Linked DNA regions of Homo sapiens. The protein of the gene in region 2 purifies or fractionates together with the protein of the main gene of each other region. This does not show direct contact. Each region holds a gene or a part of one and is shown on either strand. Other genes may lie near its edges. The genes, in order: ACAD9, TMEM9, NDC1 and OPA3.

Region 1 (7,025 bases), on a different chromosome or scaffold from region 2:
GAACTGCTGCAGGGATGGGTGGGAAGTTGAGTGGGTGGGATTTGGGTGCCTGTTTTCCCTATCAGCAGTCTCAGTCAGAGCCGCCTGCTTCTGTCTGTTTTACATATTTGGTTTCTGCACTAGATTTCTTTGAATAACAGGTTCCACTTTTTTAGATAATTTACAAACTGTTTATTGCAATTGAACTCTCCTCCCCTAAGGCATTGACCTGATTTGATAACATCAGGATCTTTCTCCCACGCCCCTGCAATCTCTCCTGTGTGGCAGGTTTTCTGTGGTTGTACCTGAAGGCCAATTAGTTGCCAGGCAGTCTTATCTGGCCTGCCCACTGGTACCAGAATGATCTCTAACACAGCCCATTGCACAAGACCCAAGTGTCAGTGAGCCTCTGTGTTCAGTGAAGGAGACTGAGCTTTGATATAAAAGGCTGCAGAGTGATGGAGCCATCAGCTTGTTTTTTTTTTTTTTTCTTGTTTTTTTTTTCCTTGAGACAGTGTCTTACTCTGTTGCCCACCCTGGAGTGCAGTGGTGCAATCACAGCTCACTGCAGCCTCAACCTCCCCAGGCTCAGGGGATCCTCCCACCTCAGCCTCCTGAGTAGCTGGAACTACAGGCGTGTGCAACCACGCCCAGGCTGGTTTTGAACTCCTGGGCTTTAAGCAATCCCCCTGCGTCAGCTTCCCAAAGGACTAGGATTACAGGCAGTAGCCACTGCAACCAGCTAAGCTTGTTTTTTTCTTTTTCTTTTCTTTTTTTTTTATGGAGTCTCACTCTGTCACCTAGGCTGGAGTGCAATGGCGCAATCTCGGCTCACTGCAACCTCCACCTCCCGGGTTCAAGCAATTCTCCTGCCTCAGCCTCCTGAGTAGCTGGGATTACAGGCGCGTGCTACCAAGCCCGTGTAATTTTTGTATTTTTAGTAGAAACGGGGTTTCACCATGTTGGTCAGGCTGGTCTCAAACTCCTGACCTCGTGATCCGCCCGCCTCGGCCTCCCAAAGTGCTGGGATTACAGGCGTGAGCCACCGTGCCTGGCCTCCAACCTTTTTTTTTTTCTATACCACCTTCAGGGTGGTTTTGGAATGGATGGAGGCAGGGATTCCTTTAAGTTGGCTGTCACTTTTAGTTAGGGACTCACCTATAAGCCTGTGGTCCTGGGCCCAGAGAGGAGAAAGCAGTGCGAGCATATTGATAGAGTAGAGAAATCTGTTGGCTGATTAGCTGTACAAGGTCTGAGGAGAAGGTTGAGGTCTCCCCAAGACTTCTCTAGAACACTTGGTGAGAGGCGCCATGAGGACAGGTGATGCTTGGGCTTATAGCTCTGACTCAGGACATCACTGCTCAACAGCCTGAAGCCCACATCCAAAGCTCATGTCATGCTGGCAATTGAAGGGGTAGCAGAGCCCAAAAGTCCAGAGGGGCTCAGCACAGGGAGCAGATGTCTGTGAGCAGGAGAGACAGCGGCTGTAGGGATCGATGAGACTTGGTAAGCATGATGTGCTCTTGTCAGCATAGCATCTTTGAGCTCACACAATAATTGATGTAGAATTGTCCATTTCAGTAAGGAGTTTCCACATCCACTATCTTCCACGATTCTCACAAGGGCCTTGAGTAAATATTACCTGCATGTTATGGGTGAGAAAGGGGTAGTTTAGAGAGCTGAAGGGATTTGGTGAAGGCCACATAATGAGTAAGCCTGAAATCAAGGACCAGACCCCCAGGCTTCTAAATGTTAGTCTTGGGCTCCTTGTTTCATGGGACTATTATCATCCCTTGTACTGAGAAGGAAAACTGATGAAAATCGGGAAGAACCTATTTGAACAGGGGAGGGAGATGGATGTGGGTGGTGGAGCCTGCACATAGTTTCTGTATCTCAGGAACCTTGTGAGGTTTGCTTTCCAGTTCCTTCAGTACGTCATGTCCCGCTGGCCAGGGTGGAGTGGAGCACATGTTTTTCCTTCCCTTTTAACTGATATTTCCGTGATGGGAGTGTGCTAAAAATTAAATTTTTTAGAAAATATTTACTATTTTTAGAAAGAAGTTTTCCCATTTCCAGAAGTTAGCCAAGATGAACTTAATGAAATCAATCAGTTCTTGGGACCCGTGGAAAAATTCTTCACTGAAGAGGGTATGTATGGTTTTCTTTACCATTGCCGATTTCCATTGTAAGGGCTATTTGGTTGATATTTATATTAGAAGTGACATACATAGGAGAAGTCTTCTTGAGGGAGAAATGGTTTCCACTCATAATATTTTGCTTTAGGTTTCATCCCTATTGCCATTTAATTAAAAAACATCCAGTTAAATGCTTCTCATTGTATTTGTGGTTCAGGAGCACTTTAAACATTTCCATACTGTTCCAGGTCAACACTTCCATAAAGCTATAATAAAAATGAATAACTAAAAAAATTAGATGGCAAAAAGCCAAGGCCACACACCATACAAGCCCATGGAGCATGTGTTGGTTGTTGTGGCAGTGTACAGTTGCTCTTAGTGTTTCTAAAGGTTGAGTTTCAATTTCTGTACTTTGGTAATTGTAAACAAAGAGTGATTTGTGGACCAGCCACAGTTTGGCACCTGCATGGTGAGGCAGCATTTGACCTCAGGTCCCTCTCTCAGAGCTGTTGGCCGGTCCTCCAGCCAGGGCCTTGGTGGAGAGTTCAGTGATGGTGGATGGACAGCAGGTCTTCCCTAATAGTAGGATCCTGGAGAGCTTTTGTTTATATGAATTTTATCTATCAATATTTGCCATCTTAGGGGTTATTTTATTTTTATTTTACTTTATTTTTTTGAGAAAGGGCCTAGCTCTGTTGCTCAGACTGGAGTGTGGTGGTACCATCTCATCTCACCACCACCTCCATCTTTCAGGCTCAAACAGTCCCCCAACTTCAGCCTCCTGAGTTGCTGGAACTACAGGTGCGCACCCCCATGCCCAGCTAATTTTTTTGTATTTTTCATAGAGACAGGTTCTCACTATATTGCCCAGGCTGGTCTCTACTCCTAGGCTCAAGTGATCCTCCCACCTTGGCCTCCCAAAGGGCTGGGATTACAGGTGTGAGCCACCATGCCTAGCCCCTCTTAGAAATTAAAACTGAGAAATTTAAAATATACTGTGGGGCTGGGTGCAGTGGCTCACGCCTGTAATCCCAGCACTTTGGGAGGCCAACGGGGACAGATCACCTGAGGTCTGGAGTTCAAGACCAGCGTAGCCAACATGGTGAAACCCTGTCTCTACTAAAAATACAAAAATTGGCCGGGCATGGTGGCGGGTGCCTGTAATCCCGGCTATTCAGGAGGCTGAAGCAGGCGAATTGCTTGAACCCAGGAGGCAGAGATTGTAGTGAGCCAACATTGCACCACTGCACTCCAGCCTGGGTGACAGAGTGTGACTTTGTCTAAAAAAAAAAAATAAAATATACTGTGTTCATTTGTTTAAAAATAATAAATCCATTACATGTTAACATAATATTTTTAATGAAAAATATTTTGTTTTTGTTTTTCCGAGACAGAGTCTCACTCTGTCACCCAGGCTGGAGTGCAGTGGTGCAATCTCGACTCACTGCAACCTCTACCTCCCAGGTTCAAGTGATTCTCCTGCCTCAGCCTCCCAAGTATCTGGGACTGCAGGCATGCACCACCACGCCCGGGTAATTTTTGTATTTTTAGTAGAGATGGGGTTTCACTATGTTGGCCAGGTTGGTCTTGAACTCCTGACCTCATGATCTGCCTTCCTCAGCCTCCCCAAGTGCTGGGATTACAGGCGTGAGCCACCGCGCCAGCTAATGAAAAATATTTTGAAAAATAATCAGGCCAGGCGCGGTGGCTCACACCTGTAATCCCAGCACTTACGGAGACTGAGGTGGGTGGATCACCTGAGGTCGGGAGTTCGATACCAGCCTGACCAACATGGAGAAACCTCATCTCTACTAAAAATACAAAATTAGCTGGGCGTGGTGGTACATGCCTGTAATCCCAGCTACTCAGGAGGCTGAGGCAGGAGAATCGCTGGAACCTGGGAGGCGGAGGTTGCGGTGAGCCGAGATCGCGCCACTGCACTCCAGCATGGGCAATAAGAGTGAAACTCTGTCTCAAAAAGAAAAAAAAAAGAAAAGTAAGTTAAAAAAAAAAAAAGAAAAAAATTGATGGAAAGAGTGACATTGGTTGAAAGTTATGCAAGTCCTTTTAATGTTTGGCTTATTAGAAGACAGCTGGATTCTCATACCTGTTTGTGCACGTAACCTCTGGAAAAGTCCACTGTGCAGTCTTTTTTTTTTTTTAACTGTCTTTTTTTATAATCTTCAGACATGCTTTTTGTTTGTTTGTTTCTGAGACAGTCTTGCTCTTGCTTTGTCACCCAGGCTGGAGTGCAGTGGTACGACCTCAGCTCACTGCAACCTCTGCAGTTGAAGTGATTCTCATGCCTCAGCTTCCTGAGTAGCTGGAATTATAGCACGCACCGCCACGCCTGGCTAATTTTTGTATTTTCAGTAGAGATGGGGTTTCACCATGTTGGCCAGGCTGGTCTTGAACTCCTGACCTCAAATGATCTGCCTGTAATCCAAAGTGCTGGGATTACAGGTGTCAGCCACCGCACCTGTCCTGACACGTGCATTTAAAGCAAGAAACACACACTTCCAGGACATAGGGCTCTGTCAGCAATAACTGTCATCTTTGTATTTGCAGAGATGTAAATATATAAGAAACCGGCTGGGCACGGTGGCTCACACTGGTAATCTTAGCACTGTGGAAGACTGAGGGGGGCAGATTGCTTGAGTCCCAGAGTTTGAGACCAGCCTAGGCAATGGAGCGAAACCCTGTCTCTACTAAAAATTTAAAATATTAGCCGGGCATGGTGGTGCGCGCCCATAGTCCCAGCTACTTGGGAGTCTGAGGTGGGAGAAGGTACCCAAGCCTGGGAAGTCAAGGCTGTAGTCAGCTGTGTTCATGCCATTGAGCTCCAGCCTGGGCGACAGGAGTGAGACCCTGTCTCAAAAAAAAATAAAAATAAAAATAAAAAAATAAATAAATATATATATATATATATATATATGCAAGAAACCACTGCAAACCAAACCCACTCCCTCTCACAGGAACAAAGGTCTCTTGGAATAAATAGCAAATGCTGGAATAAAAACTATGTTCATTCAGCTGCCATGATGTGAATTCAAAAAGGAAGTTAAATCCAAGGGCAAAGCAGAGAAAAGAACATACAAAAATACACCTATTTCATGTACATTCAAAGAGGAGGCTAATCACTGTGGACAAAGGGCCCTCTGGAATGACAGCTGTAGGCAGCCAGCAGTGCCACGGAAATAGAGGCACTGTCATCTGGAGACACAGAAAAATCACATCCTCCCACAACTGGCCTCTATGAAAACCAACCAGGACAGACAACCCTTCCCCAAAAGTAATGGCCAAGAATAAAAGCACAAATATTGCTGGAAATCCAAGTAGCCTGTTTTACTGCTTTGAGTGACTTATATGCAAACCTAAGACTTTTTTCTGAATCCTTGATCAAGATTTATTCATATAAAGGCCGTACATAAATTCTGGGAACATGGTACTTTGGACTATATATTGGACTCTGAGCCAAAACGTTAAATACACTACACTGCGCCCCACTGTACAGTCTTCAGAGAATTAGAATTTAAAAGCAAGTAACATCTTAAGTAGTTTTAGGCCAGGTATGGTGGCTCATGCCTGCAATCCCAGCGCTTTGGGAGGCCGACGTGGGTGGATCACTTGAGGTCAGGAGTTTGAGACCAGCCTGGCCAACATAGTGAAACCCTGTCTCTACTAAAAATATAAAAATTAACCAGGTGTGTTGGTGCCCACCTGTAATCCCAGCTACTGGGGAGGCCGAGGCAGGAGAATCACTGGAACCCGGGAGGTGGAGGTTGTATTGAGCTGGGATGGCGCCACTGCACTTCAGCCTGGGTGACAGAGTGAGACTCCATCTCAAAAAAAAATAAAAACTAGTTTTGATCCTGTGGGACCCCCTAGAAGCAGCTCAGGTCCCCCAGAACCTCTTTGAGAAGTGCCAAATTGTCAGCTGTCATTACATTGCTTGGTTTTTGTTTGTTTCTTATTTCACACCTGGTGATCACAAATTATATGTTGCTAGTTTTAAAAGTTGCTTATTTATATATAAACATAATTTATAATTTAGAAATACTTATTTCTGCTTTTTTTCCTAGTGTTTATCTTCCTATTTGTATCTTTTTTTAGCTCCCATAGTCTCTTGTTCTTTTATTTAAACTTTTCCTATGTGGTTTGTCAGGTTTTTTTTTTTTTCAGGTTTAATTAAGGAATAATTGATTTACAATAAATTGCACACACTGTCATGTGACACATAATGACATTCAAGTCAATGACAGACCATATATACAGTGGTGATCCCATAAGATCATCATACCATATTTCTACTGTATCTTTTCTATGTTTAGCTGTGTTCATATACACAAATACTTACCATTGTGTTACAGTTGCCTACAGTGTTCAGCACAGTAATATGCTGTACAGCTTTTTTGTTTTGTTTTGTTTTCCTTAAAAAAAAAAAAACAAAAAATATTTAACAGTGAGATGGGGTTTCACTGTGTTGCCCAGGCTGGTTTCCAACTCCTGGGCTCAAGTGATCCTCCCGCCTCAGCCTTCCAAAGTGCTGGGATTATAGGCATGAGACACCACGCCCGGCCTACTGTACAGGTTTGCAGCCTAGGAGCAATAAGCCATACCATATAGCCTAGGTGTGTAGTAGGCTCTGCCACCTAGGTTGTGTAAGTCCATTCTGATGTTCATACAGGGAGAGAATCACCTGACGCATGACTGTATTTAGAGAGTACCCCTCAGGAGCCATCAGTGCAACAGAGGAAGTGAACGTACTCATTACCCGTCAAAGTTTCCTTGTGCCTCTTTTATTTCCCCCCTGTTTCCAGGCAACTGCTGATCTGTTTTCTCTCACTATAGATTAGTTCGTATTTTTTGGAATTATATTATGTGTGATTTTGTCTGGCTTCTTTCTGCATA
Region 2 (7,025 bases):
TAGTAGTAGAGAAGTTGGCAAAGGTAGGTATTCTGACCACATGCTGTAGGATACCTAATGCTTTTGCAAAGCTGTGTTACATGTGTTATTCTGTGCCAGTCTTATAGCATCCTTGTAAAGTAGGTGGGATGGATTTTGCTCCCATTTTATAATAGCAGAGACAGAGGCCCAAAGAAATAATTTAGAGTGTTGAATTCATTTCTGGGTACCTCACTTTTAAAAAGAGAAGAATAACCCAGAATTCATTCAGAGAAAGGAGACTAGTGCGGTGAAGGGAAGTTTTAGCACATTGTCCTGGAAGGAATGGTTTAAGGAAGCAAGGAAAGCCTAAAGAGGAGAGGACTTGGGGACACACGATGATTGATTGAAAGCTGGCATGTTATGGGAGGTGGGACATGTGGGAGCAGGTACTGGTGTGGATCAGTTATGTTCAGTGGGGTTTCTTGGTGTAGAGTTGGGGCCAAGGATAAAAGCTTCAGGGAAACCGACTTAAGCATGAGTTGAGGGAGCATTTCTAATCTAGGCAGTTTTGGGAGCCAGGAAGCTCCGTTCTTGGAGGGCCCCGAGCACAGATGGGCTGAGGTCACTGTAGAAGAGATCAACATCAGATGAGAGGTCCGGGTCAGTGCTGCCTCTCCTGCTTTCTCAAAGCAGATGAGCTTTGAGAAAATACACATTTCCAGTACCACCACCACTGCTCGATTTTGATTCTTCAAATACGGAGTGAGGGTGAGGGGAGGCAGTAACCTTTCTTTCCTTTGGTGCTTAGGATGCAGTTGATCCAGAGCAACACTCGAGAATTTTGAAACTAGTTGAATTTCCAACTCTGAGACTGTCGGTGATTTTCTGAGAGGCAGTCTAGTTAGATAGACAGACTCTGTGTTCCACCTTCCTGACTTCAAATTTAGCTTAGCTGCTTGTTAATTGTGTGACAAATTACTTAATCTCCACTGCACTTTGATTTCCTTATCTATAAATAGTGGCAGTATTTTCTGTGTTAAGTATGTACGTGTTTGTGTGTGTGTTGTGCGTGTATGTGCACAGGTCAGTAACTATAGCACTTAGAACAATACCTGGCACACAGTAAATGCTTATATAAATGTTAGCTGATATTAATGTATATTATCATGCCTTACTGGTGGCCACATAGATAGTCATGGTCAAACTTACACCACAGACTGAGAAAATGGGCTCCTCCTGAAGCACTAGCCTTCTACTTAGGAGAATTCCAAGTAACCCCCTTGTATCTTGTGGTTATAGTTCAAATAGCATCAGTAAAAACTTAGATGGGCTGTCTTAGCCCTTCACCAGATAACAAGGCTATATCCCAAACTCCTTATGCAGGCAGACACTTGCAAATTTAGGAACACTCTCTCTGTCCTGGAGCTATAGATGGCCTGAAAACCCAAGGTTGGATGCCTGCAGAGGACGGAGTCCTGTCTAGACCTCTCAGGCTGTAGTTTATCTCCTTCTTCCCCTCAGAAGTCAGAATTAAGGGGCTGCTTGATGAATAGCCTTACATCAGGAACCTCAGGGCAGCTCCATTAAGGGTGGTGGGTGTAAACTGAGGCTGGAGGAAAGACTCCAGGATTCTAGGACCCAGTGACACTGACCTTGACTGGGAGTCATCCTGTGCTTGCCTGGAGCCTCTTAAGGGTAGGGTGGGGCCTTGACATTGATCTGAGTACCTCAGTGCTAGGGTTAGAGGAGGCCAGTTTGAGTGGGTCTTCTGGTCTCTGCCACATTTTCACTTTGCTGTCACGTTGGTCCATGCTAAAGAACACTTGCACCCTTCTCCTTGGTTGTGCAGAGTAAAGCCAGAATCATCTGACATGCGGTCCTCAGGTTTAATGGCCAAGCCATGTATGTTCCTGTGTTTACAGGTATCCTGCCACCTAGTGTTGAGAGATTATGACCATATGTGCATAAAAAGGCAAAAACCCCAGCTTTGCCCCATTGGTGGGTCCGGCAAGGAGATGTGTTATTAGAGACACTCCCAGAGCAGGAAAGCACTGAATAAGTTGGCTAGTTCCTTGCCTTTCAAACTTGTTAAAATAGAACTTCTCTGCAAACAAAATCCGTTTTGGAAACAAAATCTATAAAACATAAAAGTCGGAATTGCTCTGCCTGAGAGGGAACTGTCCCTCAGCCCCTCCCTGACTACCACCCCACCGTACAGTGGTTCCTGTGGGTCCCAAAAGAGTACAGTTTGAAAGACACTGACCAAGTTCAGTCTCCATTTATAAATGAGGGAACCGAGGCCTGGAGAAGTTAAATAAATTGCCCCCAATCACAGGAGAGTTGGAGACAGCAGAACTATTTCAGCTCCTTATTGCTGTTCCCCTGGGTAGCAAGATCCCACATTGAAGAACTCAGGTCGCCCTTCCAAACTGCCCCTGACACCTTGGCCTTGTGAGAAATCCATAGATTCCACTGCAATACTGGTATGACCTTCTAGACCCAGGACCCAGTGTAGCTCAGGTAAGGGAGGAATCTGGAGGCTTGTAGAGACTTCCTGGAGAAGGGAAGATGGCATTGCCTCTGGACAGGAATGGCAGCCAAGTGCCCTGGGTGACCCTTTTTCCGCTGCTCCCAGCGGAAGCAGCATGCAAGGCCTGAAAGCAGTACTTCCGGTTACAACAGGGGAGACCTGCTCAGAGCAGGGAATAACATGTTGGACACAGAGGTGGAACTGGATCATGAAAGGTTTAGATAAACTCATGTATGCCACATATGGCTTTTTGGGAGAACAGAGTCCTTTAGAGCACATCCCATTCTTAATCCAACACATGGTCTTTATATCACACACCCTTGATGCTTCTGCCAGAAACCCAGCCCTGTAGCTCAGAAGGGAGCTATGCTTGACTCTTGCAGGACTCCTGTCAGAGCTGGAAGGGCCTTTTAAAGATTATCCGGTGCAACCGCTTTATCTCAAAGAGAAGAGAACGGGCCCAGGGTATAGACACTTGGTGGCAGAGCCAGGACAGAGCCCAGGTGCATTGCAGCATGACACCTGCTTCACCTCTGCACACCTCCAAGGGGTTTGGATTTTTCCATTGGTAGTAATGAAGGTGCATTCTGTAGAGTTTTTTGCTTTGTCAGTGTGGTCCCTGAACCAAACAGGTTGGAACCATGCTGATCTGAGGAAGGCTGGGAATGAGAGGCCTGAGACAAGCCAGGTACCAGCCCAGGCCCCACTGAGGCTGAGTCAGAAGTAAAGACCTGTGGCTGAGGGTCTAGATTTGGGTTCTGGCCTCACTACCACTATGGAGATGCCACTTTGCCTCCTAAGCCTCTTTCCCTGTTTTTAGATGTGGAACCTATGATCTTTATCCCACCTTACGCAAGAGTGCTGTTAGATGAAAGTGGGTCTACTCTTCCTTTGGGAATCATGTAGTTACTAAGCCTGCTCTGGCCAGCACCCAGCTAGGTACTGGGAATATGGAGATGTATAAGACATAACCCTGTGTTCAAGGAACGTACATCTCCTGGGGAGACAGCACGAATAAAGATTGGATTACAATGCAGTGCATTGGCGGGGGGTTGGGGGGAGCTGGCTATTGGGCACAGGTGGCTAAGCTGAGAGTTAAAAGATGAGGTGGCAAAGCCATGCCCTCCTGGTGAGAGTGTGGGTGTGGCTCCTTCAGAGAGCAGCCTGGCAGATCCGTGTGGCTGGAGGTTGGGAAAGTGGGTGAGGGAGGCGTAGCAAGAGATGGAACTGGAGTGAGGTGGGTTGGGACCCCTGGCAGAGCAATTGAGTTAGCATTGGCCCTAGGGGCTCTGTGGAGGCACTGACCGGGCCTAAGCTGGGGAATGACATGACCAGAGTTGCATTCTGGAAAACCACTTGGCTGCCGTGGGAAGGTAGTATGTGTTAGAAAGGCCAAACTCGAGGCAGGAGGGCAGCGCGGAGGCTGGTGCGGTTGTCCGAGGAAGATAGGATGAGGGCCTCAGCTAAGACACAGCAGTGGGAGAGAATAAAGGAGATGGATTCTAGGAATTTTTAGGGAAGTAAAATCACTGGCCTTTGGTGATTTTACTTAGATGAGAGGAAGGCAGTGTCAAAGATGATTTCCAGGGTTTGACCCGGACAGTGAAGTGGACGGTAGAAGTGTTCTCTCTGCCATTGCAAATGGGGAGCCAGTTTGCAGGAGTAGGGAGTTGAGGGCAAAGGGTGTGCAGGGGCGGGTGTAGAGTTCATGGTCTCTATGGGACATGCACATAGTGACTCCTGTAGCTCATAGAGGAGAGCGGCCCTGGCTGGAGATTCTGATCTAAGATCCGTCAGCTTCTGAGTTGAACCTTTGGGACAGATGAGCACATGCCGGGAGAACATAGCATGAGATGAGGAAGGCGGCTGGGGGTAGAACCCTGGGAACGTTGATGGTTTTGGAGCCAGCCCTGTAGGCAGTTTGGAGAGCTGGTTTTGATGTGTAAGGGGCATGGGCTGTGAGGCTGTGGGTTAGGAAGGGTTTCTGCCAGCCTAATCCTTTATAAGCCCTTGGCCCTCTCTGGGAGCACCCTTCACCTTTGCCTAGCCCCTACCTCTCAGCTCCCCTGGCTACCTGCTTCTCTGGTCTTGAGGCTCTAAGACGTGGTGGCCCTGCCTCGACAGCCCTGTCTCTCTCTGTTGTAGCAACTGCCTGCACGTGGTGGAGCCCATGCCAGTGCCTGGCCATGACGTGGAGGCCTACTGCCTGCTGTGCGAGTGCAGGTACGAGGAGCGCAGCACCACCACCATCAAGGTAACGCCAGGGTCTCAGGAAGCCAGTGGGATTCCCACACGCCATTCTCCAATCGCAGACTGGCCTACACCCACAGTTTTTCACTTTATTCTGGAATGTCCCAATGGCTATGAGACTGGCTTCTAGGCTGGCCTAGTGCAGACACTGGGACCCACATCCCACACCTTCCTGGAGCCAGCTCCCTTCTCTGCTCTCTTTCCAGTAGTTACCATTACAGTGAGAGGGGAGAGCCCTGGGAGAGCTGCTGGAGACTCCTTTTTCCCTGCATTCTTTACAGTTTATTTCGTTCCTCTCCCTTCTTCTATTCATCCAGTAAATCTCTTTTCGGTGCCTGCTATATTCTGGGCAAGATGCTGCCAATGGGGAGGTTGGGCTGCCCTCCTGGAGCTTAGTCTAATTAAGCTTCCAAAGTGACTAAGCTCCTCTAAAAAGCATCAGAGCTGTGGACTAGGGCTGGGTGTTGGGTGCTGGGAGAACATCAGATTGGTTCTTTTGTGTTTTCCTGAACCACCTTCTCATTGATCATTTGGGTGAATTCAGGAAAGAGATGATAGACACAGTCACCACCATAGACGTCACGAGGTGTCTGTTCATTCCTGCACCAGGCAGAACTTCCCGTGTCTTCTAGAGGCTGTGAAGCCGCCCTAGCAGAGACCGTCATGACCCCCAGCCCCCCAGTGCGGCTTCCTAGTCCAGGTTCTAACAATCCTGGGCCAGGCACCTGGCACACACAGTACTCACTGATTACATAGCCATTTCTTTTTTTGTTTGTTTTTTAGAGACTGGGTCTGACTCTGTTGCCTATGCTGTAGTCCAGTGGCACGATCACAGCTCACTGCAGCTCTGACCTCCCAGGCCCATGCAACCCTCCCACCTCAGCCTCCTGATTAGCTAGGACCACAGGTGCACATCACCACACCCAGCTAATTTTTTAAATTTTTGGTAGAGACAGGGTCTCACTGTCTTGCCCAGGCTTGTCTCGAACTCCTGGCCTCAAGCACTGCTCCAGCCTTGGCTTCCCGAAGTGCTGGGATTATAGGTGTGAGCTCCATGCCTGGCCTAATGTAGCCCTTTCTGTTCCAGTTTGTAGCATTTTTCTGCTTGTCCTTTGAAGAGTCTATAAATAGCATTGGAAAATAATTCTCATATTTAAAGGCACTGCTGGGTCCTCCATCAGGTTTCTCCTTTCGAGGCACATTTAGGGGGCGGTGGTCTTCACTGCTGTCCTTCCTGCCTATTCCAGGGAGCCCTGTGCTGTAGCTCCTCTGTGTTCTCACCACTCAGGGAAAAAGCAGCTGTCTGTCCTTCACTCCCAGCCAGTGCCCTGTGCAGACCCAACTCCTTTCATCCACCTGAGGCAGCCCCTCCTGCAACTGTCATTCTCCTTCTCTGAACTTGCTCCAGTGGGCCTCACCCTCCAGGGACCAGATGCCTGAGACCTGAAATTCAGAGCCAGATGTCACCGCTGCTCCCTGTTTGGCCGGGAGGGAACTTCCTGGCATGGGGACCTCATCAGATACAACTTCCTAATCCCTCGTGTTTCCCCCAGTCCTCCTACCTAGGAGGCTCCCCTCAACTTCAGCCTATTGAAGACCCAGCCTCTGTTCTCCTTCCGCCTTCCTGGGGTACAGGTGAGGTCTGATTATTTGCCCTGTTTAAACAGGCGTGAACGCGGTGCCCCAATCAGGTGGGACATTGGTCCAGTGGAACTTGGCTATTGGCTGAGCGGGGCACCCAGCTTGAAAGTCCTGAGGTTCTTTTTTTCACTCTTCTTCACAGTCTAGGTAGGGCAGGGCTGAGATCAGAAGCCGGCAATGGCCAGGCATTGTGGAATTAGGAAAAGCATTTGAGAGGGAGTCAGCAAGTCTGGGTTTGAGTCACACCTCCACCATCTGGTAGCCTTGGGATCACAGGTGATCTAGCCCAGCAGTTCTCAATCAGATGATTACAGCCCCCCCAGGGGGCATTTAGAGGTGGGTGAAGGTGCTTTTGTGGTCCCAATAACAGGTGTATTACCAACACTGTTACAGGGACCATGGATGCTAAATGTCCCACCCAAAATCCCAGAGCACCCACATTGAGAAACATTGAATTTGCCTCATTAAATCTGTCTTTTCTGTAAAAACAAAATGACTCCAGCTTGTGAAGCACTGTGTATGTAAGAGATTCGTGGAGTTGTTGTTCTACCCTTGGCTTTCCCCTCCCTGCAGAGGGGCTGATGGGAGGGCAGGCGTGACCTTCACCCCCAGCACACACCTTCTTACCAGCCCTAGCCACTCT
Region 3 (7,321 bases), about 150 Mb from region 2:
CTTTTCGTTCCTATGATCACAGTCTTTGACAAGCTTATTAATCTTATTACATAATAAAAAGGTGATTTATGTTACGAAGGAGACATCTTAAAATTATCTCAAAGTGAATGTTTTGATGTGTCAATATAACATAGGCAGTAATTGAAAATAAACTGCTTGAAACATAATGCAATTTTTATGTTGAGAAGTAGGTCCTATAACTTTCTCCCCAAGTTGAGTATCACCTACCAGACAGCCACTGTATAGGATGAAACAAATCAATCCTGCTGAAAATTATAAATACTGTGGTGCAGATGGGTAGAAATAGCACTGACCAAACAATACTTGCAACTATCCTCCAGCCCAAAACCTATAAACAAAAAGAAAAACCCTCACTCATGAAGTCAGTTAAATTATTTCAGTTATGCAAATCCTATCTTTTCATACAGGATGTTAACCACTAACTCAGATCATAATCCGTAACTCAAACATTCACTACTAGTAATAACATTACGTACCACTAAAGAATTTATAGTATCAGTGAGCTGATGCCTGCATTAGTACAAAGTTAGGTGCAACATCAAATATCATACTTTGTATGAGGGGTGGTGGGCATTGATTTACAGCTGTTTTAGAGCAACTAATACTTGTCTCTCTAGGCTTAATTGATAGCTATATTAATATATAAAGGCTGTACACATTTTATGGGAACCACCTGTATACTGTAACTGTATTTATAATCATCAGATATGAACCTTTACTGGGCAACTACGGCACTGTAGCATTCTATTCATGTTTGAATTGCCCGTATCTATCATATAGGAGGAAAATATTTACTGCTGAATAATACAAGAAGATATAGAGGGGTTTTAAGCATGAAAGTGACAATCAAATTCATGTTGCTCAAGGTAAAACATGTCTGTTTACTGAAAGCTGGCTTTAAGGAAGATGGAGGAGTTGGGACACGAACCAAACCAGAGACAATGCAGTTAGGAGGCAGTCCACCAAAAAGCTGAGGCCGGGCGTGGTGGCTCACATCTGTATCCCAGCACTTTGGGAGGCCAGGGTGGGCGGATCACTTGAGGCCAGGAGTTTGAGACCAGCCTGGCCAACATGGTAAAACCCTGTCTCTATAAAAAATTTTTTAAAAATTAGCCAGGCATCATTCCAGCCCGGGCAACAGAGCAAGACTCTGTCTAACAAAAAAAAAAAAAAAAAAGAATAAAGTTGAACTCCTATCCCACATTCTTTTTGATGTTGTGATTTTGAGACAGCTCGCTCTGTCCCCCAGGCTAGATGCAACAGTGCCATCTCAGCTCACTGCAACCTCCTCCTCCCGGGTTCAAGTGATTCTCCTGCCTCAGCCACCTGAGTAGCTGGGGTTACAGGTGCCCGCCACCACACCTGACTAATTTTTTTTTCAGTAGAGATGGGGTCTCGAACTCCTGACCCCAAGTGATCCTCCCACCTCAGCCTCCCAAAGTGTTAAGATTACAGGCGTGAGCCACAGCGCCCAGCCTCCTATCCCACATTCTATACAAAAATTAACTCAAAATGGATTAAAGACCTACATGTAAGAGCTAAAACTATAAAACTCTTGGAAGAAAACATAGGAGTAAACCTTCATGATCTTGGATTTGGCAATGGTTTCTTAGATATGACACCAAAAGCATAAGCAACAAAAGAAAAATATAGATAAATTGGACATCAGCAATATTTAAAACTTTTTTGCTTCAGAAGACACTGTCAGCCAAGTGCGGTGGCTCACAAGTGCCAAAGGTGGCAACAACCCAAATACCCACATACTGATGAATGGATAAACAAAATATGTGGTATGTCCATACAGTGGATTATTCAGCCACAAAAAGGAATGAAGTACTCATGCATGCTAAACATACACCAGGCACGATGGCATGCACCTGATGTCCCAAATAGTTAGGCGGCTGAGGCAGGAGGACTAGTTGAGCCCAGGAGCTCAAGACCAGGCTGGAGAAGATATCGTATCTCTATTATAAAAATAATTTTTAAAAAAATTTTAGAGGCCAGGCACGGTGGCTCACGCCTGTAATCTCAGCACTTTGGGAGACCGAGGCGGATGACTCACTTGAGGTCAGGAGTTCAAGACCGGCCTGACCAACATGGTGAAACCCCATCTCTACTAAAAATACAAAAATTAGCTGGGCGTAGTGGTGCGTATCTATAATCCCCGCTCCTCGGGAAGCTGAGGCAGAACTCCTTGAACCCTGGAGGCGGGGGTTGCAGTGAGCCGACAACGCGCCATTGCACTGCAGCCTGGGCAACAGGGAGCGAGCCTCCGGCTCAAAAAAAAAAAAAGATAAGACTTACGGACCCAAAAGTTTTTAGTTTGGAATACAGGGGAGATGGCAGTGCACTGGGATAGAAGCACTTTTCCAAAAGGGATCTTTCTCCTCTTTCTCTTTGCACTCCAGAGAAGCGATGTAGTACTGTTAATTCCGTAACTTTAAGGAGGAAGTACTATTCCACTCAGCTCAGTCCCATTCTACCTTACAAAGAACACCTGCCCTGCTTACTGGACCCTAACCCCAGCCTCTACTAATGCCACATTTCTTTCCAATTCCGTGCATTCCTTCCCACTTCTTAACGAAACAAATTAAGTTATTTATTTTGCACCTACTGGATACGGTACCCTTGCGTAAAACTCCGCCTCACTCCCTATTCCAATTTCCATTCAGTCCATCCGTCCCACTCTGACCAGCTTCCTTCCACTCAGGACCCCTCTCCTACCCCGTAACCAACTTCCACTCAGGACTTCCCACAACCCTGCAATCAGTCCCCCAAGTGGTGCCTTCCCCACGCGTTCTCTCCACGCTGCCCCGGGACCGGCCCTCCCCCGCCCAGCGCGCACGCGCGATCAGAGCTTGCCCGCCCGGCCCGACCCTGGCAGTGCGTGCCACAGTGCACGCCGCACTCACGCGCCACAGTATGTCCCGCGACCTGCCGGCGCAGGGCCGGCTCACGGCCGTGGCCATGGAGATGGCGGCCCCTAGTCTAGGGCGTACAGGAGACCGTGCGCCCGCCCGCCACCGCAGTTCAAAGGCAGGAAGGCCCCAGGAGGACCCTGCTGGGTCTGCCTCAAACGCTGCCTGAGCGAAGCCCGGCCCAGGCTCCAACCCATCCCTGCGAGGCTTCGTCTGGACAAGCTCAACAGGCCAGGACTGCCGCGCAGACACGTCCCGCAAACGCGGCTGTAACTCCAGGAACCGCCCTCTGGCGACCAAACGGTCCCTTCGAAGCAGGGTCCAGCGGGGCGCCAGAAGCAGGTGGCGGCGCTGCATGCTGGGAACTGTAGTCTCGACGGCCCCCTGAGAGGAAGTAGGAGGAATGTTGCATTCTGGGACTCGGAGTTCCAAAGTACAGAATGCTGGGAGTCAAGGTCTTCCTGGAGGTGCCTTGAGGCATGCTGGGAATAGTAGTCTTTTATAAAGCCGATAACAGCCACAGTATTGATTGACTGGAATTCTTCAGTTAGAGCTAGCAAAATGATCTGCCCTCATTTCTCCCTATTACTTTATAAGTCACCTAAAAGTGAAACCAAAGGATGTGGTGGTCTTCTCCACAATAGGTACGCAGTAATTTTACTGAAATAAAAAAAAAATTCTCTAGAGATGCCTTTGGTTTCATAAAATCTGGTTTCTACTTCCAGATCTGCCACTTGCTAAATTGAATATTTTTATCTTCTCTGAGCCTCCATTTCTTCAACAGTAAGATAAGGATGAAAATAAAAATATCCTGGTGATGTTGTGAGGATGTAAATAATATGCTATACAAATGTTATCATTAATATACTGCCAGTAAGAAAAAAGGTGTTTCACCAACCCAAGTTTCACCTAATGAAGTCTTCTCAGTGCTTTAGACCTCAGTGAGATCTCTGGATGCATATCGCTAACGCCTTTTTATGCTCAATCACATGCCACAGTCAACATGCAATACTCAAGACAGAAATAGATTCAGTGATTTACTGACTAAGGAAATGCATAGGCTGGTGAGAGGAATTGAGATCACACCTACTGCTCTGCAACGTTTGCTAACAATGGCTTCCTGAATGCTTTAAGATTATATCCTATTCACTTCCAAAATCATGTTACTATCAATCATGTCTAAAGCACTGTAGGACAAACTGGGAATACAACTGATAGATCAAGTCTCTGCCGTGAAGAGATCTATCCGGTGGTGGAGAAAACTTGTAAAGAATTAGTCCAGGCCAGGCACAGTGGCTCACACCTGTAATCCCAGCACTTTGGGAGGCCAAGGCAGGAGGATCACAAGCCAGGAGTTTGAGACCAGCCTGGGCAACATAGTGAGACCTCATCTCCACAAAAACAACAACAACAACAACAACAAACTTTTTTTTAAATTAGCCGGGTGTAGTGGTGCACACCTGTAGTCCAAGCTACTCCATAGACTGAGGCAGGAGAATTGCTTGAACCTGGGAGGTTCAGGCTGAAGTGAGCAGTGATGGCGCCATCACACTCCAGACTGGGCCATAGAGTGAGACCCTGTCCAAAAAAAAAAAAAATCAGTCCAAATGCGTGTTCATAAAGACACCTCAGGTTCTAAGGTTCTTGTGGTAGAGACTACTCGTTGTCTGCCTCAATATCTATTCTCCCCTTCTTTCATAATAATTGAACTCCCAGTTTTTTAACTGGGCATATAGTTATATTTCCCAGCCTCTTTTGCAGCTAGGTATGGCCAGCTGACTGAGTTCAGGCCAATAAAATATAATCAAAGTATTGCATGGTAGCTTCCTAGAAACCCCCTTAAAAGGGAGCTACTGCATGATGGTCTTTGCCTCTTCTTAATCCCATCCTCCATTCAGCTGCCTGGATTTGGGATGTGTTGGCTGCAGCTCTAGCACCATACTGGACCACAGAAAGGGGGTCACACTGTAGGGAAAATGAAGTACTGAGCCTAAAGGAGACTTGATTATTTATGGCAACCATATCAGTTCTAGGCTACCTGCCTTTACCTCCTAATTTCATTTACACAAGAGAGACAATTATTTATTGTTTAAGCCACATCTATTTTTTTTTTTTTTTGAGACAGAGTCTCACTCCTTTGCCCAGGCTGGAGTGCAGTGGCATGATCTCAGCTCACTGCAACCTCCGCCTCTCGGGTTCAAGTGATTCTCCTGCCTCAGCCTCTTGAGTAGCTGGGATTACAGGCGCATACTACCATGCTGGCTAATTTTTGTATTTTTTAGTAGAGACGGGGTTTTGCCATGTTGGCCAGGCTGGTCTCAAACTCCTGACCTCAGGTGATCTGCCTGCCTCAGCCTCCCAAAGTGCTGGGATTACAGGCATCAGCCATCGCATCCAGCCTCTGCTTCTGTTTTTATAGCACCTATCACAGTCTTAAATCATCTTGTTTGTTTACTTCTTATTGTCTGACTTCTCACTAATATACAGACTTCACAAGAGCAGGGACTTTGTCTTGTTTATCATCGCTTCCAAAGTACCCATTACATTAGTAAGTAATAAATGAATTTTTATTTAATGAATAATGAATGAGTGGAAGAAATTAACTATATTGGACAGTGTTTCTTCAGGACAAAAACTTTTGATACCTATATCAAAGGGGGATTTAATGCAGGGAATTGATAACAAAGTTGTTGGAGAGGCTAAAAAAGCATAGGAAAGAAAGAACGGGGCTGTAGTAGCTAAGAGCAGAATGGAGTTACTGCCCAAATACCAGGAAGCTACTGCTTCCATTTAGAGCCATGAGACAACACTGAATGCTGAGCTGCTGAGGGTGGTGCCCCTGCTGCTGTTAGAACCACTCTGTTGATTTGAGCACCCTGTAGCTGCTGAAAGCACCACCCAGAAGTGCCTGCAACTATCCAAAGTTGCTCTCTGAGCCTTTGAAAGCCATAACCTGGCCGAGTGTGGTGGCTCACACCTGTAATCCGTTTGAATTACTTTGGGAGGCCAAGGTGGGCGGATCACAAGGTCAGGAGATTGAGAACATCCTGGCCAACATGGTGAAACCCCGTCTCTACTAAAAATACAAAAATTAGCTGGGCATGGTGGCACATGCCTGTAGTCCCAGCTACTCAGGAAGCTGAGGCAGGAGAATAGCTTGAACGAGGGAGGTGGAGGTTGCAGTGAGCTGAGATCGTGCCACTGCACTCTAGCCTGGAGACAGAGTGAGACTGCATCTCAAAAAAAAGAAAAGAAAAGAAAAAGAAAGCTATAAACTAATTATTTGAAATAGAATAAATTTTTTAAATGATACAAGACCTCTTTGGTCTCAGCCACAAAGGGAACACCATCGTTTGGAAAGCATTGCAGTAAGACACACATGTTGTGCTGCTGCTGTGCCCCTAAGGCCTATGCCCTTCAGTAGTCAACCTGTGGCACATGTGCCACCTTGCCAAGCACAAGAGGAAGTAACACTGGAGTACCAATGCTGAAAGATGAAATACCACCAGGACTAGTCAAATGAGGCACCTAAAAAGTGTATACCACAGATTCAGGCAGGGATTCCGTGAAGGAACAACACCTAGACCTAAGACGGCAGCTGTTGCAGCATCCAGTTCATCTTAAGAATTTCACTCCAGCCTGGGCAACAAGAGTAAAACTCTGTCTCAAAAAATAAATAAATAAATAAAAGGAAAAAAAAGAATTTTGATGGTTAGTCACCCAATAAATGTTCTGGTTGGCCGGGCGTGGTGGCTCATGCCTGTAATCCTAGCACTTTGGGAGGCTGAGGCAGGTGGATCATTTGAGGTCAGGAGTTCAAGAACAACCTCGCCAACATGGTGAAACCCCATCTCTACTAAAAATACAAAAATTAGCTGGGCATGGTGGTGGGAGCCTGTAATCCCAGTTACTTGGGAGGCTAAGGTAGCAGAATTACTTGAATCTGGGAGGCAGAGGTTGCAGTGAGCCAAGATTGCGCCACTGCACTCCAGCCTGGGTGACAGAGTGAGACTCTGTCTCAAAAAAAAAAAAAGTTCTGGTTTTTAAAAATTAAAAAAAAAAAAATGATACAAGACATGAAGAACAATACCAGTTAGTATTAGAAAAACTCAGAAATTATGTGATAGAACTCAGGAAAGAAATCAAAATTTAAACAATTATTATAAAATGGAAGTTGAATTAGAAGAGCAAAGAAACACAACAGTAATGTCATAACAAACGAAGAACTTTTATAATCAAAAAAGGAATAAAGAAACAAAAACAATTTTAAGTGACAAATAGAGAAAATAGGCAAAGAAGATCTAACATATGAATAATGGGAGTCCCTGAAGACTCTGGAATCTCATTTTAAACCATCACTGTCTCGCCCAACAACACACAAG
Region 4 (7,025 bases), on a different chromosome or scaffold from region 2:
CAAACAAAACACCCTCCCGCACAGCCAACTCTGCGTGAATTACTCTTTGTCTTGCAGTTCTCCTCTCTTGATGAATCAGCTCTGTCTAGGCAGCGGGCAAGGTGAACTCCTTGGGCGGTTACACACCATTCATCCCTCCATCCATTCATTATTTCCTTTAGCTGGTATTTTGTGAGCCTCTGCCCTGTGCCAGGCCTTGTGCTGGCAATGCTGGCGAAACAGCAGGGACCAAACCAGCACCAATCTGTGCCCTCAAGGAATTCCTAGTCCTGCGGGGGACAGACGTATCCCCCAACAGTGGGCAGAGCTGAGATGGGGGAGCCCACTGGGCACCTGACATGGCATGGGGTTCAGGGAGGGCTTCCTGGCAGAGGAGACATCTGAATTGGGACCTGAAGGGTGAGGACAACACCAGGACAAGGCGTAAGGAAAGCACTGGGGCAGAGGGAGGAGCACACACAAAGCCCACATGATTAAGGGAGTGCACTTTTTTTCCCCCTCTGTAAGTTTGGATGCTTAAAGTTTGCTTTCCAGGGCCCGGAATTCTTGGTTGTTCGGTGTTTGGTGGGGTCTTTGTTGGGGCTGCAGCTCTTAGAATGGGAAAGTATTAGATTTCACAGTTACCAAAGTGCTTTCCTGTTAGCCATCTCATTTGACCCCCACAACTGTTTTGTCCCCATGTCCGGAAAGAGGAATGACTTCCTCTGGTTTATAGAAGGGAAAATGGAGGTGTTGAGGGCAGCAGTTAATTGCTCAGGTCATACGCAGAGATTTGTGCCAGAGGCGAAACTTTGGACACTGAATTCCTAGACCCAGTTTGTTTCCTGTCTCTGCCTGTCTTCCAAACACTGTGACATTCTTAGCGTTGTGGTTTAGAAAATGGCTTCTGGAGCTGGGCGCAGTGGCTCATGCCTGTAATCCCAGCACTTTGGAAGGCGGAGGTGGGTGGATCATGAGGTCAGGAGTTCAAGACCAGCCTGGCCAACATGGTGAAACCCTGTCTCTACTCAAAATACAAAATTAGGCAGGTGTGGTGGCGCACACCTGTAGTCCCAGCTACTTGGGAGGCTGAGGCAGGAGAATTGCTTGAACCTGGGAGGCAGAGGTTGCAGTGAGCCAAGATCACACCACTGCACTCCAGCTTGGGCGACAGAGCGAGACTCTGTCTCAATAAATAAATAAATAAATAAATAAATAAATAAATAGGCTTCTGTGCTGGGCGCGGTGCCTCCCACCTATAATCCCAGCACTTTGGGAGGCCGAGGCAGGCAGATCACCTGAGGTCGGGAATTAGAGACCAGCCTCACCAACATGGAGAAACCCCGTCTCTACTAAAAATACAAAATTAGCCAGACGTGGTGGCGCATGCCTGTAATCCCAGCTACTCGGGAGGCTGAGGCAGGAGAATCGCTTGAACCCAGGAGGTGGAGGTTGCAGTGAGCCGAGATCACGCCATTGCACTCCAGCCTGGGCAACAAGAGTGAAACTCTGTCTCAAAAAAAAAAAAAAAAAGGCCGGGTGCAGTGGCTCGCGCCTGTAATCCCAACACTTTGGGAGGCCAAGGTGGGCAGATCACGAAGTCAAATTTCAAGACCTGCCTGACCAACATGGTGAAACCCCTTCTCTACTAAAAATACAAAAATTAGCTGGGCGTGGTGGCACGCGCCTGTAATCCCAGCTACTCGGGAGGCTGAGGCAGAAGAATCACTTGAACATGGGAGGCGGAGGTTGCAGTGAGCCGAGATCGTGCCACTACACTCCAGCCTGGGTGACAGAGCGAGACTCCATATCAAAAAAAAAAAAAGAAAAAAAAAAAGAAAGAAAATGGCTTCTGGAGTCAGACTGACATAGGTTTGAATCCCTACCCAGACTGGTGACTTTGGGTACGTCATTTAGCCCCTCTTAGCTTCAATTTCCGATTCTGTACATTGGGTATTATGTAATGGTCACATTAACTGGGCTTGTACTTTGTGCCACGGCTTGTCTGCAGCACCTTCCAGCCTCTGGCACTGGGTCCTCACCAGTTATGATGAGGTAGATACTATTATTATTATTATTATTATTTTGTGTATATACTATGTATGCATTATGCTGTAAATAATATTTATTGTGTTGTGGTGAGGATTAAGTAAATGGATATAAAATGTTAAGTCAGTGCCTGGCATAGGGTCATGGCTGTCACGTAGATGTTATAGATACAACAGGCAGGAAAAAGCAAAACATCTTGCCCTCAGGTACCTTACATTCTTGTGGAGGAAGCCAGACAATAAATGAAATAAATAGTTGGCTGGGCCCAGTGGCTCATGCCTGTAATCCCAGCACTTTGGGAGGCTGAGGCTGGTGCATCACTTGAGGTCAGGAGTTTGAGACCAGCCTGGGCAACATGGTGAAACCCCATCTCTACTAAAAATACAAAAATTAGCCAGGTGTGGTGGCAGGCACCTGTAATCCCAGTTACTTAGGAGGCTTAGGCAGGAGAATCACTTGAACCCAAGAGGCAGAGGTTGCAGTGAGCCGAGATTGCACCACTGCACTCCAGCCTGGGTGACAGAGTGAGATTCCATCTCAAAAAATAGTTAAAAGATGAAGTATATTAGATAGCAATAATTGCTCTAGGAAAAAAATCAGGGTTGTAGAACAAGGAGTATTTAAAGGAAGGCTATAAGCCTAGATAGGATTGTCAGGGAGAACTCACTGAAAATATGCCAAGGAGGGAGGGAACGAGCAGCATTGCCATCTGGGGGAAGAAACGTTCCAGCCCAGAGGATCCCGCATGCACACAGGACCTGAGGCATGAGCGTGCCTGGCACACAGGACAGAGGAAACTGATGACGGGAAAGGGGGACAGTTTGTATGGGGCCTGTGGGTCACTGCAAATGCCTTGGCTTTACTCTGAGTGGAACAGGACTTACTGGAGGGTTCTGTGCAGCAGAAGGACAATATCAGAGTTCTGTTTTATTTTATTTTATTTTATTTTTTGAGACAGAGTCGCACTCCGACACCCAGGCTGGAGTGCAATGGTGTGATCTTGGCTCACCACAACTTCCGCCTCCCGGGTTCAAGTGATTCTCCTGCCTCAGCCTCCCGAGTAGCTGGGATTACAGGCATGCGCCACCACGCCCGGCTAATTTTGTATTTTAAGTAGAGATGGGGTTTCTCCATGTTGATCAGGCTGGTCTCTAACTCCCAACGTCAGGAGATCTGCCCGCCTTGGCCTCCCAAAGTGCTGGGATTACAGGCATGAGCCACCACGCCTGGCCCGGGAGCAGAGTTTTTAAGGATAACTTGGTGGGTGAGGGGAAGCCAGTGAGCCAGGAGTGCTGATTGGTCAGAGATGAAATCATAGGAATTCAGAGATGTCTTGTGCTCAGTTAGTTCCTGGGTGGCGGTGGGGGAGGGGGAGGGCGGGCACAAGATCAGATGAGCCAATTTTTTGATCTGGGTGGGGCCAGCTGATCCATCAAGTGCAGAGTCTGCAGAATATCTCAAGCACTGATCTTAGGAGCAGTTTAGGGAGGGTCAGAATCTTGTATCCTCCAGCTGCATGACTCCTAAACCATAATTTCTAATCTTGTGGCTAATGTTAGTCCTACAAAGGCAATCTAGTCACCAGGCAAGAAGGAGGTCTGCTTTGGGAAAGGGCTGTTACCATGTTTGTTTAAACTATAAACTAAGTTTCTCCCAAAGTTAGTTCAGCCTTCACTCAGGAATGAACAAGGACAGCTTGGAGGTTGGAAGTAAGATGGAGTCAGTCAAGTTAGATCTCTTTTGCTGTGTCAGTCATAATTTTGCAAAGGCAGTTTCAGGATTACAGGCGTGAGCCACCACGCCTGGCCTCAAAATCTAAAATATTTACTCTCTGCCCCTTTACAGGAAGAGTTTTCTGACCCTGCTCTAGAATAGTATCCCTGCCCTTGTTTTTTGACATTGACATTGGAGCCAGTCCTCTGATTGATAGTGTGTCCCGATGTCTGGAGTCTCCTGATTGCTTCCCCGATTGGATTCATGTTGAACATGTTTGGCGGGAACACCACAGACTCGAGGTGCCTCCTAAGGACATCCCTTCAGGGGACTCCTGAGGTCTATTTGTTCTGTCATTTGTGATGGTGATTTGGATCGCTTGGTTAAGGTGTAACCATGTCAAGAACCTTTCCTTTTCCTCTTAGTAATGAATAACCAGTAGATTTGTTTACAAGGTAGAGCCAGCAGGATTTCCCATGGATTGGGTGTGAGACAGCCGACTGGAGGAGGGGCAGGTTGGACAGAAAGACCTGGAGCTCAGTTAGGGACAGGTCGAGTTGGAGATGCTACCAGATATTGCAATGTACTGGCTTCTTACATTTACACCTTTTAATTACATCATTAGTGTCTTCACACTGCTGATTGCCCTTTGCTGTGGCCCCCAGCCATGGTGATTGGAATTTCCCAGGGTGCACTGGCGGCCCTGCTTTCTCTCAGGTCAGGCGTCCTGAGCTGACCAGCAAATCCAGTATCTGTACCTTTGGCTGAGATACTTTTGACTCAGCAGGCTGCGCCCAGCTGTCTCACAGGAGAGGCTGGAGCAGTAGCTGTGGCTGCCTGAGGAAAGAACAGTACATGCTAGAAGCATAAATCATCGATGATGCACCCTGTTGGGGAGGCAAAGATCTTTTTAAACACAGAATTCCTTTGTTTAAATTATTTTAACCCAAAAGTAAAGGAGGTTGGTGATGTTAGGCAGGTTGAGGCCATGCCTGCAAAGTGCACTTTTGGTGCTCCCAGGGAGGCTGTGAGATATCTCTGGGCAGTAGGAAAATTCCAGCTCATCTGTGTTTATTCCTTTGGCGCGCACTGGTCCTTTTTCTGGTTTATCACACACAGTAGGCAGTAGAGTGACTGGTCCCCCAAAGATGTCCACATCCTTATCCCAAGAACCTGTTGAATATGTTACCATGCACAGCAAAGGTGACTTTGCAAATGTGATCAAATGAAGGATTTGGGGATGGGGAGATGATCCTGAATTATGCAGGTCAGGTCAGTGTGATCACAGGGGTCCTTATAAGGGAAAGAGGGAGGCAAGAGAGGGAATGATTTGAGGGATGCTGCCCCGCTGGCCTTGAAGATGGAGGAAGGGAGGCATGAGCCAAGGAATGCGGGCAGCCTCTGGAAGCTGGAAAAGCCGAGGAGATGGATTCTCCACTGGAGACTTCAGAAAGGAACACAGCCCTGCGGACACCTTGAGATTAGCCTAGTGAAAGCCATTTTGGACTTTTTTTTTTGGGGGGGGGGGGATGGAGTTTCATTCTTGTTGCCCAGATTGCAGTGCAGTGGCACGATCTCAACTCACTGCAATCTCTGCCTCCTGGGTTCAAGCGATTCTCCTGCCTCAGTCCCCTGAGTAGCACCCACCACCACACCTGGCACCCACCACCACACCTGGCTAATTTTTTGTATTTTTAGTAGAGATAGGGTTTCACCATGTTGGCTAGGCTGGTCTTGAACTCCTGACCTCAGGTGATCCACCTGCCTTGGCCTCCCAAAGTGCTGGGATTACAGGCGTGAGCCACTGCGCCCAGTTTTTTGTTTTGTTTTGTTTTGTTTTTTGAGAGGGGGTCTCACATGGTCGCCCAGGCTGGATTACAGTGGCATGATCTCAGCTCCCTGCAACCTCTGCATCCCGGTTTCAAGCGATTCTCCTGCCTTGGCCTCCTGAATAGCTGGGATTACAGGCGCATGCCCTAATTTTTGTATTATCAGTAGAGACGGGGGTTTCACCATGTTGGCCAGCTGGTCTTCAACTCCTGACCTCAGGTGATCCACCCGCCTTGGCCTCCCAGAGTGCTGGGATTACAGGCGTGAGCCACCACAACTGGCCCCCATTTCAGACTTCTGACTTCTGGAACTGTAAAATAATAAATTTAGGGCAGGTGCGGTGGTTCATGCCTGTTATCCCAGCACTTTAGAAGGTCGAGGCAGGAGGATCACTTGAACCCAGGGGTTCAAGACCAGCCTGGGCAACAAAGCGAGACCTTGTCCCTACTAAAAATAAAAAACAATTAGTGGGGCATGGTGATGCATGCCTATAGTTTTAGCCACTCAGGAGGCTGCGGCAGGATTGCTTGAGCCCAGGAGAATGAGGCTGCAGTGAGCTGTGACCGCACCCCTGCACTCCAGCCTGGGTGACAGAGCAAGACCCTGTCTCAAATAATAATAATAATTTGTGCTGTTTTAAGCCACTGCATTTGTGGTAGTTTGTTATAGTGGCCGTGGGAAACAGATACACCATGATCATTCATTCAGGTTGCTGAGGTCATTTTTTCAGAAGTGCTCAGCTCTGTGGCCATTCTTATGAATTTAGGCCATGGACTTGGTTTCAGTTTTCTTTTTCTACATAGCCATCTGATCCAAAGCTTGGTGGCTTACCGTAGTAACTCTTAGCCAGGTGCAGTGGCTCATGCCTGTAATCTCAGCACTTTGGGAGGTTGAGGTGGGTGGATCACTTCAGGCCAGGAGTTCGCGACTAGCCTGGGCAACATGGCAAAACCCTTTCTTTACTAAAAATACAAAAATTTAGCGGGTACCTGTGGTCCCAGCTTCTCAGGAGGCTGAGGCAGGAGAATCGCTTGAACCTGAGAGAGGTGGAGGCTGCAGTGAACCGAGATCGTGCCACAGCACTCCAGCCTGGGCAACAGAGCAAGACCCTGTCTCAAAAAGGCAAACAAACAAAAAACCCAGTCACTCTTAGTTTCTGTTACCTTTGTGGCTTGCCTGGGCTCAGCCGGACAGTTCTTTTGCTGGTTGCTGCTTGGCAGGCTCTCATCCAGGTGCAGGTGGAGGTGGCTGGGCTGGAGTCATCTGGAACTGGCACTGGGACTGGGGAGTTGGTTCCCTCTCAGCGTAGCCTCTGGGCCTCTCTTCTCCACGTGGTCTTTCCTGCAGGGTAGCTGAATATCTCACATGGCTGCTCAGGACTCCCCAACAGCCAGATTTTCATGAGGGAAGAAGCAGAAGCTGCAGGTTATTTAAGGGCAAGGCCTGGAATCTTC

The links.
Region 1: the proteins of TMEM9 (region 2) and ACAD9 purify together in Homo sapiens (co-immunoprecipitation; 2 studies listed by BioGRID and IntAct, with this or other methods). This does not show direct contact.
Region 3: the proteins of TMEM9 (region 2) and NDC1 purify together in Homo sapiens (co-immunoprecipitation; 2 studies listed by BioGRID and IntAct, with this or other methods). This does not show direct contact.
Region 4: the proteins of TMEM9 (region 2) and OPA3 purify together in Homo sapiens (co-immunoprecipitation; 2 studies listed by BioGRID and IntAct, with this or other methods). This does not show direct contact.

Annotation. Positions count from the first base shown.
Region 1 is NC_000003.12:128,882,620-128,889,644, forward strand, and holds part of ACAD9 (complex I assembly factor ACAD9, mitochondrial), read left to right. Parts: intron 1-2,033; coding exon 2,034-2,127; intron 2,128-7,025. UniProt on the Homo sapiens protein: As part of the MCIA complex, primarily participates in the assembly of the mitochondrial complex I and therefore plays a role in oxidative phosphorylation.
Region 2 is NC_000001.11:201,144,460-201,151,484, reverse strand, and holds part of TMEM9 (proton-transporting V-type ATPase complex assembly regulator TMEM9 isoform a precursor), read left to right. Parts: intron 1-4,636; coding exon 4,637-4,745; intron 4,746-6,149; exon of another isoform or gene 6,150-6,376; intron 6,377-7,025. UniProt on the Homo sapiens protein: Transmembrane protein that binds to and facilitates the assembly of lysosomal proton-transporting V-type ATPase (v-ATPase), resulting in enhanced lysosomal acidification and trafficking.
Region 3 is NC_000001.11:53,835,272-53,842,592, forward strand, and holds the start of NDC1 (nucleoporin NDC1), read right to left. Parts: upstream 3,026-7,321; 5' UTR 2,991-3,025; coding exon 2,934-2,990; intron 2,865-2,933; exon of another isoform or gene 2,690-2,864; coding exon of another isoform or gene 2,636-2,689; intron 350-2,635; coding exon 229-349; intron 1-228. UniProt on the Homo sapiens protein: Component of the nuclear pore complex (NPC), which plays a key role in de novo assembly and insertion of NPC in the nuclear envelope.
Region 4 is NC_000019.10:45,574,781-45,581,805, reverse strand, and holds part of OPA3 (optic atrophy 3 protein), read left to right. Parts: intron 1-7,025. UniProt on the Homo sapiens protein: May play some role in mitochondrial processes.